Linked DNA regions of Homo sapiens. The protein of the gene in region 2 interacts with the protein of the main gene of each other region in a biochemical or structural test. Each region holds a gene or a part of one and is shown on either strand. Other genes may lie near its edges.

The links.
Region 1: the proteins of MCM4 (region 2) and SUPT16H form a complex in vitro, tested with the Homo sapiens proteins (one study listed by BioGRID and IntAct).
Region 3: the proteins of MCM4 (region 2) and MCMBP form a complex in vitro, tested with the Homo sapiens proteins (2 studies listed by BioGRID).

What each region holds. Positions count from the first base shown.
Region 1 is NC_000014.9:21,370,474-21,374,126, reverse strand, and holds part of SUPT16H (FACT complex subunit SPT16), read left to right. Parts: intron 1-696; coding exon 697-789; intron 790-1,430; exon of another isoform or gene 1,431-1,658; intron 1,659-2,082; coding exon 2,083-2,253; intron 2,254-3,638; coding exon 3,639-3,653. UniProt on the Homo sapiens protein: Component of the FACT complex, a general chromatin factor that acts to reorganize nucleosomes. The FACT complex is involved in multiple processes that require DNA as a template such as mRNA elongation, DNA replication and DNA repair.
Region 2 is NC_000008.11:47,963,916-47,967,568, reverse strand, and holds part of MCM4 (DNA replication licensing factor MCM4), read right to left. Parts: intron 2,996-3,653; coding exon 2,857-2,995; intron 1,383-2,856; coding exon 1,162-1,382; intron 205-1,161; coding exon 84-204; intron 1-83. UniProt on the Homo sapiens protein: Acts as a component of the MCM2-7 complex (MCM complex) which is the replicative helicase essential for 'once per cell cycle' DNA replication initiation and elongation in eukaryotic cells.
Region 3 is NC_000010.11:119,841,694-119,845,346, forward strand, and holds part of MCMBP (mini-chromosome maintenance complex-binding protein), read right to left. Parts: intron 1,734-3,653; coding exon 1,561-1,733; coding exon of another isoform or gene 1,555-1,560; intron 903-1,554; coding exon 779-902; intron 1-778. UniProt on the Homo sapiens protein: Associated component of the MCM complex that acts as a regulator of DNA replication.

The DNA.
Region 1 (3,653 bases), on a different chromosome or scaffold from region 2:
AGATTTCTGCATAAATTATGACTCCTTGAAAGATTCTAAGATGAAGGTGGCTTATCTTTGAGAGTGCAAGATGATTTTGGAATATAAAAAATTAGTTTGGCCCAGGCATGGTGGCTTATGCCTGTAATTCCAGCACTTTGGGAGACCGAAGCAGGTGGATCACCTGAAGTTAGGAGTTCGAGACCAGCCTGACCCACATAGTGAAACCCTGTCTCTACTGAAAATAAAAAAATTAGCCAGGTGTGGTGGTGGGCACCTGTAATCCTAGCTACTGGGGAGGCTGAGGCAGGAGAATTGCTTGAACCCAGGAGGCGGAGGTTGCAGTGAGCCGAGATTGCACCATTGCATTCCAGCCTGGGCAACAAGAGTCAAACTCCATCTCAAAAATAAGTAATAAAATTTTAAAAAATAAAATATTTCTTTGAATTACACAGGACGTTTGTCACTGATCTGTGTTCCTGAACTATGAAACATAGATCTGGGGGCTAAGGAAAAATTTCTCTTGATATTTATCAACAATTAGCAAGTACTGTAAAAACAAAAAATAGAATAGCCGTAAGACTGCCAAACAGGCATGTACCTTAAACTTGAAATTTCTATCAGGAGAAAATTATGCCTGTCCTAGATAAATATTGAAGGCTGTATTCCTGTTTTGCTAGTGTGAAAAATTAAGTGATGATTACCCACTCTTTTCAGAAAGGAGAAGATGAGTATGCCAACGTTGATGCCATTGTTGTATCAGTGGGTGTTGATGAAGAAATTGTTTATGCCAAATCAACTGCCTTACAGGTGAGAGATTTACAGCAATTTTTAGCTCTTAGAGTTGTTGGATTATCTACTGCACTGTTCAGTATGGTAGCCACATTAAAACTTAAATTCCTGGCTGGCTGCGGTGGCTCATGCCTGTAATCCCAGCACTTTGGGAGGCCGAGGCAGGTGGATTGCTTGAGCCCAGGAGTTCAAGACCAGCCTGGACAACATGGCAAAACCCTGTCTTTACAAGAAATACAAAAAAATTAAGCAGATGTGGGGGTGTGCACCTGTAGTCCCAGCTACTCAGGAGGCTGAGATGGGAGGATGGCATGACCCCAGGAGGTAGAGGTTGCAGTAAGCCAAGATTGCACCATTGCACTCCAGCCTGGGCAACACAGTGAGACCCTGTCTCTTACTTTAAAAAATTTCAATTTCTCAGTCCCATCAGCTGTGTTTCTGGTACTCAGCAGTGGCTACCCCATATTGGACAGAGCAGATAAATGGTATTTTCACCATCACATAAAGTTCAATTGGATTTAGCAGTGATTTAAGACATAAGGAAAAAGAAGTATTAATATCAGTATGGATTTAGCTGCTATAACACAAAAACCTAAGTAACAGTGAGTTAAACAAAATATTCTTTTCCTTATGTATAGTCTTCAGGGACCCAGGCTTTTTCCAGTTCTCTGTTCTGCCACCCAAAGAACATAGCCCTCTTGCACGTGGTACAGAATGGCTTCTAGAACTCCAGGTGTTTCATCTACATTCCAAGCAAAAAGAGACAGAGAAGAAAACAGGAGGCCACCTTTTCTTTTTAAGAAGACTTGCTTGAAGCTCCACACACTACCATTTTTTACCTATTGGCCAAAATTTGATCCTAATGACCATACTTACCTGAAAGGAAGGTAAAATATCAGTTCTTTGAGAAGGAGAAATGAATAATTGGTAGGGAACTGGTAATTGAGGAGGTAATAACGCAGGGTTCTGTATCACTCTGTCCCTTGTTTTATGCATTTCTGTATCACTAAACATTGATATACTTCCTATAAACACAAATCGTTTAACTGATTTGATGGTTTTAATTATAGAAAGTTCAAGCATATAAACGTAGAGAAAATAATACATTGAACCCCATTGTCCTGTTCTAATAAATTGTCGACTCTTGGCCGATCTTGCTTAATTTGTATCCACTCCAGACTCCCCAGCCTGATTACCTTGGAGTTAATTTCAGACATGTTATTTTTGTCTATAAGTATTTCTGTATATCTATATGAGTCCATTAATTTTTGTATCTGTAAATACCGTTGTCACTGTTGTCTTTTTCCATAGACATGGCTCTTTGGTTATGAACTAACTGATACTATCATGGTCTTTTGTGATGACAAAATCATCTTTATGGCCAGCAAGAAAAAAGTGGAGTTCTTGAAACAGATTGCCAACACTAAGGGCAATGAGAATGCTAATGGAGCCCCTGCCATCACACTGCTAATACGAGAAAAGGTCAGGATTAATAAAGAATGTGTCATAAATGTGGAAGAATCTTCAAAAGGGATGAACAGAAATGCCTTATAGGAGTTTGAAAGAATGCGCAGGGGAAATTATAGGTGGCTGTGGTTGTAATTACAAAGTTCTGTCACGTCTTCATTGTTAGGAGGAAAAGAATTCAATAATCCTATCAGTTCTGCTGTAAAACAAATGAGCTATGAAATTCTGGTGAACACTGATTTTATGTCTCCATTCTTGAGGACACTGTTAGTTTGTTTTCATCTGTATGCCTTGATTAGAGCAAATAACCTTAAATATCCTTAAGGAAACTTAGATATACATCATTTCCAGTTTTTATCAAATGTGAATTTTTTTTGTCATACTGCCCACCTAACATGGGATGTTTTCTCAGAATATTGTTCACTTATGTGTTTGAGTTTCTTAACTGTTTCTGAAGAAAAAGGATAGTTGTATCAGACGTGGTGGCACACACCCGTAGTCCCAGCTGCTCAGGAGGCTGAGATGGGAGGATTGCTTGAGCCCAGGTGTTTGAGACCAGCCTGGGCAACGTGAGACCCCTTCTCTTAAAAAAAGGAATAGTCTGGTCAACTTACGGCAGCACTTTCACCTGAGTATATAAAAATATCTAAAGAAATGTTTTGCTCACTTTTGATATATTACAATCTTCCTTAAAGATGGGAAGGCATCTTACAGGTAGGCCAGGCATGGTGGCTCATGGCTGTAATCCCAATACTTTGAGAGGCCGAGGCGAGCACTTGAGCGCAGGAGTTCCAGATGAGCCTGGGCAACATGACAAAACCCCATCTCTACAAAAAATACAAAAATTATTCAGGAAGGCTGGGTGCAGTGGATCACTTGAGGTCTGGAGTTCAAGACCATCCTGGGCAAGATAACAAAACCCCATCTCTACTAAAAATATAAAAAATTAGCCGGGCATGTTGTCACACACCTGTAATCCCAGCTGCTCGGGAGGCTGAGGCATGAGAATCACTTGAACCCGGGAGGCTGAGGTTGCAGTGAGTGTAGATTGCGCCGCTGCACTCCAGCCTGGCAACAGAGCAAGTCTGTCTCAAAAAAAAAAAAAAATTTATCCAGGCATGGTGGTATGAACCTGTAGTCCCAGCTACTTGGGAGGCCGAGGCAGGAGGATTGCTTGAACTTGGGAGTTCGAGGTTGCAGTAAGCTGTGATCACACCACTGTGCTCTACCCTGGGGGTAGTAGAACAAGACCCTGTCTCTTTAAAAGTAAAAAGTAGGTGGGGATGGGAGGAGAATTAATTTTTTCCGTAGTTTAGAATATTATTCTACCTGTTACTGGTAAAACGTGTCTAATGAACTGGTAAAACATATGTGTCTTTTCTTCCCTATGACACTGACAGAATGAAAGTAATAAG
Region 2 (3,653 bases):
GACCAAGTCCAATGACTCACTAAAGCACAGCATTGAAAGCAAGCCAGACATGCTCAAGTGCTGGTGCAAACCTACACTCTTACCTGTAACATTCACTCTGTCCCCAGGCTGGACCTTGTCAACGAGATCATTGTGAGCAAACAGGATAACTGTGTGTGGTGTCTGCCCTGCAGGCATGTCTTCCGGAGACTCCTGAAGCTTGATCTGAAGGTCAGCAAACAGAGAACATGTGGGCCACAAAGAGAGGGCAGGGGGACAAAATCTGCATGTCTTTGTACTGCTTTTGCCATATAAGGCTGCAGTGCATATCCCCACATAAATGATTGTCCATGTTTCTCATTATTTCCTTAGAAATTACTTCTTCTAAAGAAGTTGCTGCAACAGACAGCAACAAAACAGGGGAAGGAATGTAGGGAGCTGCGGTGGGGGAAGCTGAGATGCTTTTCATAAAGCAGGGTCGAGGAAGGCCTTTCCAAACCAGGTACCCTCTGAGAGGCCTAAGGATGCTGGGCTTTTCTCTAAGCCACTTTGGGGGCCTGCATGATTCTGAGAATAGGAGGCCATGTGCTCCTGCGGAGCAGGGTGCCTGCCTTTCTGTCTCCAGCTCTCCATCCCATGCAACATTAAAGAAACCATGCACACGCAGTCACAGAAAAACTCAAATCCTGTCCTCCCACATCTTTACAGTCACAATCACGGTAAATAAGCAATTTTCTACCTTCCCCTCACTTTTTTCTGTCATTTTAATAACTTCATCTTAAAATTTCATGAATATAGAGAAAAAAGACCAAACTTCTTAGACAGTAAAATTTGTGAAAAAATTTCAGAAAAATTCCTCAATCCTTTACCAATGGAAAAAGCAGAATGACATTTAACCAAGTATTCTCATCTCAAACGTTTGAAGCATTTTAGGCCATGAAAATACAGTGTCTCTAACAACAGACAGTGCCACTGGCAACAGCACAGGGACAGTGCCCTGAAGCAGGGGCTTTGCGTGCTCTGCATATTTAGCCCATAGGCCACTAACGAAACCCACAAGACCAGAGAGGGATGGATGCCATTCGGGAAGTGAGGCTCAGGGTCCGAGGGACAAGTTATAGTTGGCCTTTTGAGGATACAGACAGGCAAAGCATAGCCTGGGGGGCCAGGGTGGCTGCGCACCATCTGCTTGTCAGAGAAGAGGGAGCGGTTGTGGATGAGTGCCATGCTGTGGGTGGTGTGGCAGCGCCCGCACACACTGGGCTCTGCAATGCGGCCGCGGTCCATCTCCACCCGGGTCGTGTGGGCACACACTTGGCACTGGAAGAAGGCCTCCTGCATCTCGGGAATCAGCTGGGATGTCCTGATCACCATGCCGCTGATGGTGATGAGCTGGTCAATGTCTGTGAGGGGAGAAGAGAGGTCAGCACACCTGACCTGAGGTGTGGAGGTCCAGGAATAGCTGGGATCACAGACAGGAGCTAGGTGCCCAAGACTCTGCCTAGGGCGACCTTTCTGTGTCCAGTCATCTGCAGGCTATGTCTTCAGGAGACTCTCAAGCCCAGCGAACCTCTGGCCCTTCTTCCTCAGGGCCCCTGTCCAGCAGGCATCCCTCGTTCCCTTCTTGTCTGCCTACCCTGCTCCCTGCCTCCTGCCTCACTCACCTGGCCTCCTGTATGACACCCTGCTGTGTCAGGAAAAAAGCCAGACAGCCTGGACTGAGTCCTGACCCTAGCCTTTCTGTGTACATTTTGTGTCCCCTATAGAATGGGGTGGTATCAGCACCTATCCCAGAGCCAAGGACTGAACGTGCCAATGTACTTCAAGCCTAGTAAGAGCACCTGGTAGAGAAAAAGTCCTCTATACTTTAAAGTCATTATTATCCACACAGGAGAACCCCTTAGATGCTCTGATCTTTCACTCTTGCTCGTTTCCTCTATTATTTGAACCTTTCCTGACAGACAACTTTTTCCCTTTGAAGGTCCCACTGCCCGCAACTAATTTCCCCTGCTGGTTTCAGACAAGCTACCCTGTTCTGGCCTGTATTTAGCCACTGCTAGCCGTGAAGATCACCCTATCCTGCCACTGATTCATGAGACCTCTACAATTTTGTTGTTGTTGAGATGGGGTCTTAACCTGTTGCCCAGACTGGAGTACAGTGGTGCAATCACTGCTCACTGAAGCCTCAACCTGCCAGGCTCAAGTAAGCCCGTCACCTCAGCCTCCCAGAGTGCTAGGATTACATGTGTGAGCCACTGTGCCTTGCTAATTTCTTCTTAAAAAGAGATGGAGTCTCTTATGTCACTCAAGCTGGTCTCAAACTCCTGGCCTCAAGTGATCCTCAAATCTTTAAAATCTAATTTTTTTTTTTTTTTGAGACAGGGTCTCATTCTGTCACCCAGGCTGGAGTGCAATGGCACAGCCTCTGCTCAGTGCAACCTCCGCCTCCCGGGTTCAAGCGTTTCTCCTGCCTCAGCCTCCCGAGAGTAGCCGGGACTACAGGCGTGTGCCACCATGCCCTGGTAATTTTTCTATTTTTAGTAAAGGAGTTTTGCCATGTTGGCCAGGCTGGTCTCAAACTCCTGACCTCAGGTGATCCGCCTGCCTCGGCCTCCTGAAGTGCTGGGATTATAGGCGTGAGCCACTGTGCCCGGCCAATAGTCACATCTCTTATATCAGAAACTTCAATTAAATTTAAAAAGTATAGGGGGTTCATAAGTATATAGGATAACTGAATCTATATTATTGTCAATTTATAATCCGTCACCTTGACTACCACCGCCAATTACTTCTTTCATAATTTCTCAATGAAAACAAGGCTATTTTCATGTAAGGCATTTTCCTTCAACAAAAGTAATCCTATGAAAAATACATTACCTTCTGGATTCAGGTTTCTCATATTCTTAGTCTTCAATGCGTTGAATGGTCTTACTTGAATCTGATGTTCTAAGATTGAGTCAGGGTAACGGTCAAAGAAGATTTCATTGACAGCCATGTCAAAAGTTGGAATAACTTCCTGTAAAAACAAATATGAAGATGTATTTGTATTCATATCTCAGTGTTAAATATAATAAAGGCATGTCAGATTAGCAAAGTATAAAAAGACAACATGTCATGTCCCCAAAGTATTACCCTACAGAATCATGCACGTGCTGTTTTCAAATTTAGGTATGCTGAACTATCTATTTCTGCATATTTTCAATTGGGTTAAATTTCATAATTTATACGAAAGTGCCTTCTTGATGTATACTGGCATATTCTTTGCTTTCTATTAGAAGGGAAAAAGATTTTGACCTCACACTTTATTTTCCTTCTATAATGAAGTGATACCAAAGTAAGTTTTTTATTTATTTATTTTTAATTTTTGAGGCAGAGTTTCACTCTTGTTGCCCAGGCTGGAGTGCAACAGCATGATCTTGGCTCACTGCAACCTCTGCCTCTGGGATTCAAGTAATTCTCCTGCCTCAGCCTCCCGAGTAGCTGGGATTACAGGCATTTGCCACCACGCCTGACTAATTTTGTATTTTTAATAGAGACGGGGTTTCTCCACGTTGGTCAGGCTGGTCTTGAACTCCCAACCTCAGGTGATCTGCCTGCCTCGGCCTCCCAAAGTGCTGGGATCACAGGCATGAGCCACCGTGCCTGGCGATACCAAAGTAAGTTAAATCATATTT
Region 3 (3,653 bases), on a different chromosome or scaffold from region 2:
ATGTGCATTTTCCTCCTTATGTTCTTGGAACTTGTCAAAGGCCCACACTAGTTTTAAAATGAGAAACAAAGAAATACAGTGGAGTCAAGGGATGCGGTGCTAGTGTCAATGTCCACGTTAAACGTGCACATGACGTGGGCGCCTTGGGATGTATAAACAGAGCGTTCAGAATGCAAAAGGGATAAAACAGCTCATTTTACTCATCAGCCAGGTCCTTTATCTCAGGGGTCCCCAACGCCCAGGCCGTGGACCAGTACTGGTTCATGGCCTGTTAGGAACCGGGCCACAACATAGGAGGTGAGGGGTGGATGAGTGGGCATTACCGCCTGAGTTCCGCCTCCTGTCAGATCAGCAGTGGCATCAGACTCTCACAGGAGCGCGAACCCTATTGTGAACTGCACATCTGTGTGTTCCCTATGAGAATCTAACTAATGCCTGATGTTCTGAGGTGGAACGGTTTCATACTGAAACCATCCCCACTCCGGTCCATGGAAAAATGGTCTTCCATGAAATGGGTCCTTGGTGCCTAAAAGGTTGGGGACCACTGCTTTATCTGATTTTGGCTCTAAAATTTAAGGGGACATAATCAAAATGCTAAATGTGAACTGTGAGAAAAGGAATTTGTCTGTGATTTGGTATAACAGTTAACACTGGACAGATAAAAACCATGTGATGAAGCCCAATAAGGAAAACACACAAATGACACCAGCAATCTTCCCGCTCTTCCACTTCCACACACACCAAACTCCCCTAATTCCCACCAGGATACAGCACTTACACTGTGGAGATGAGATGTAATATAAGGTATTCAGCAGCCAAACTATCCCCCAGAAGGGCATGAGTAAGGAACCCAAGAAGTTCTGCTCTGACTGGAGACAATTCGGACATGAAACTTGAAACAACTGAAGGAGAAAGGAAGACCTGAGTCAGGACACACACTCCAGTTCCTCTCAAGTGTCTTAGGTAAAAAAATAACTACGTGAGCAAAGCACAATTCAGTCGACAGTAGGTAAAGCTTAACATATCCGTCAGTAAGTGATGCTAATCTTAAAAATAAGGCAGTTTGCATCCTCCTTTTTTTTTTTTTTGAGACCAAGTTTTGCTCTTTTTGCCTAGCCTGGAGTGCAATGGTGCCATCTCAGCTCACCGCAACCTCTGCCTCCAGTTCTCCTGCCTCAGCCTCCCGAGTAGCTGGGATTACAGGCACACGCCACCACACCTGGCTAATTTTGTATTTTTAGTAGAGCCAGGGTTTCACTATATTGGCCAGGCTAGTCTCGAACTCCTGACCTCAGGTGATCCACCCACCTTGGCCTCCTAAAGTGCTAAGATTACAGGCGTGAGCCACTGCACCCAGCCTTGTATACTCTTTTGTCCTCATTTCAGTGAAGAGAATTAATGTAAGAGAAAAATGGGGCAACGAGAGAGAGATTACTGAAAACACTTATTGTGAGGAATGAAGACCTGACTCTCAATTCCACTATGAGCACGTTACAGGCAGCTCTGGACACACTGAGGCTAACAGTCGATAGTTGACTAGGCTGTAACACTTACACTTACAGGTTTTGCTCTCCTCTTTGTTAAGGCAGGCAGGCAATAATGGGTTGATGTGTTGCAACTTCTGGGCTAAGATCACATGAATTCTCGGCACTAATGAAGCAGGAGGACTGTGTACTCTCTGCTCCTCTGCTGTGTCTGTGCACTCCATCGGATCCAGCAGTGCAGAGGCATCCCTGTGGAGAGGTGATAAAGTTTCAATTTAGAGAGACATCAATTGCACAGATGCAAAAATAATGTGCATCTTGGAAAACAAAATTAGAGTTAAAGCCAAGAATATTTCCACCTGTACATCTCCTTAAAGAACAGAAAGTGGCCTCTCATTCTAAAGTGTTACATCACACAGACTTCAGGCTTGTTAAGACATATCATGAAATAATGCATTTATTCAATTTTTCAAGAACGGTATTTTTATTTTTATTTTTTTTTTGGATGGAGTCTCACTGTGTTGCCCAGGCTGGAGTGCAGTGATGCGATCTTGGCTCATTGCAACCTCTGCCTCCTGGGTTCAAGCGATTCTCATGCCTCAGCCTCCTGAGTAGCTGAGATTACAGGTGCACACCACCATGCCTGGCTAATTTTTGTATTTTTAGTAGAGACAGGGTTTCACTATGTTGGCCAGGCTGGTCTCGAACTCCTGACCTCAAGTGATCTGCCTGCCTTGGCCTCTCAAAGTGCTGGGATTACAGGCGTGAGCCACCATGCCTGGCCAGAAACAATAATATTTGTTATTCAGCACTTCAATAAATGGAATGTAGGATGTCACTCATAAGGCTATTTCAAAACACAGGTACTCCTTGAACTATTGGCCGGGACATCGAATACTTGACAGCAGATCTCAAAAACTGGGGTCTTTTTCTCAAAAGCCATCTGGTATCTATTATTCAGCGTGTGGAGAATCCATTCATCTCTTATCTTGCTAATTGTTTTTCCTAAATTTAATTCTTACATGATCCCTCGAAGACTGAGTAGACAAGCAATGAAAGTATGAATTTTTCAGACTTGCTAAATAAATCTGCAGATGATAGATTTGTGAGACGACCAAAACAAATAGCTAATCTTTTAGATCTTGACTTTATAGAATCTATAGACACTGAAGTAATAAATTCATACTCCTGTATTTTTTAATACAAGCATAATAACCTTTTCCATAGTACGTACCATGTGACAGACAACGTTCAATGCCTTACACGTACAAATTCACCAAAACCTCACATCTACCCTTATTTACAATGAGGAAACCAAGCCCAAGGTGACATAGCTAGTAAGTGGCCAAGTCAGGACTCCAACCCAGGCTGCCTGCCTGTCTGTGCTCTTAACCTCTGTGATGGTTAATACTTTGTCAATCTGACTGGATTGAAGGATGAAAATTATTGTTCCTGGATGTGTCTGTGAGGGTGTTGCCAAAGGAGATTAACATTTGAGTCAGCGGGCTGGGAGAGGCAGACCCACCCTCAGTCTGGGTGGGCAGCATCTAATCAGCTGCCAGCATAAAGGCAGGCATGTAAAGAGCAGACTGGCTGAGTCTTCCGCCTCCACCTTTCTCTCATGCTGGATGCTTCCTGCCCTCAAACATCAGACTCCAAGTTCTTCAGCTTTTGGACTCTTGGACCTACACCAGTGGTTCACCAGGAGCTCTTAGGCCTTCAGCCACGGACTGAAGCCTACACTGGTGGCTTCCCTACTTTTGAGATTTTGGGACTCAGGCTGGCTTCCTTGCTCCCCAGCCTATTGTGGGATTTTACCTTGTGATCATGTGAGTCATTCTCCTAATAAACTCCCCTTCATATATTCATCTATCCTATCAGTTCTGACCCTTTAGAGACCCCTAATACAACCTCTAAACTAAACTACATCAATAGTGAAGTAACTAAAGCAGGAAAGTCATCACAATCAGAAATTGCCAAGATGAACAATCTCATATACTATTATTAAGGGACGGTTAAGCTTATTTAAAGTTGTTTAAAATTTTTGTTTTGTACCATTTTTTTTTAACTGTGAAAAATGTTAAGTTCATCCTACACAGAAACTAAGATGATTAATGTCCGGTATTCAACAAGAGGACTCTGGTGTAGATGAGGGACATCAGCCCTTGC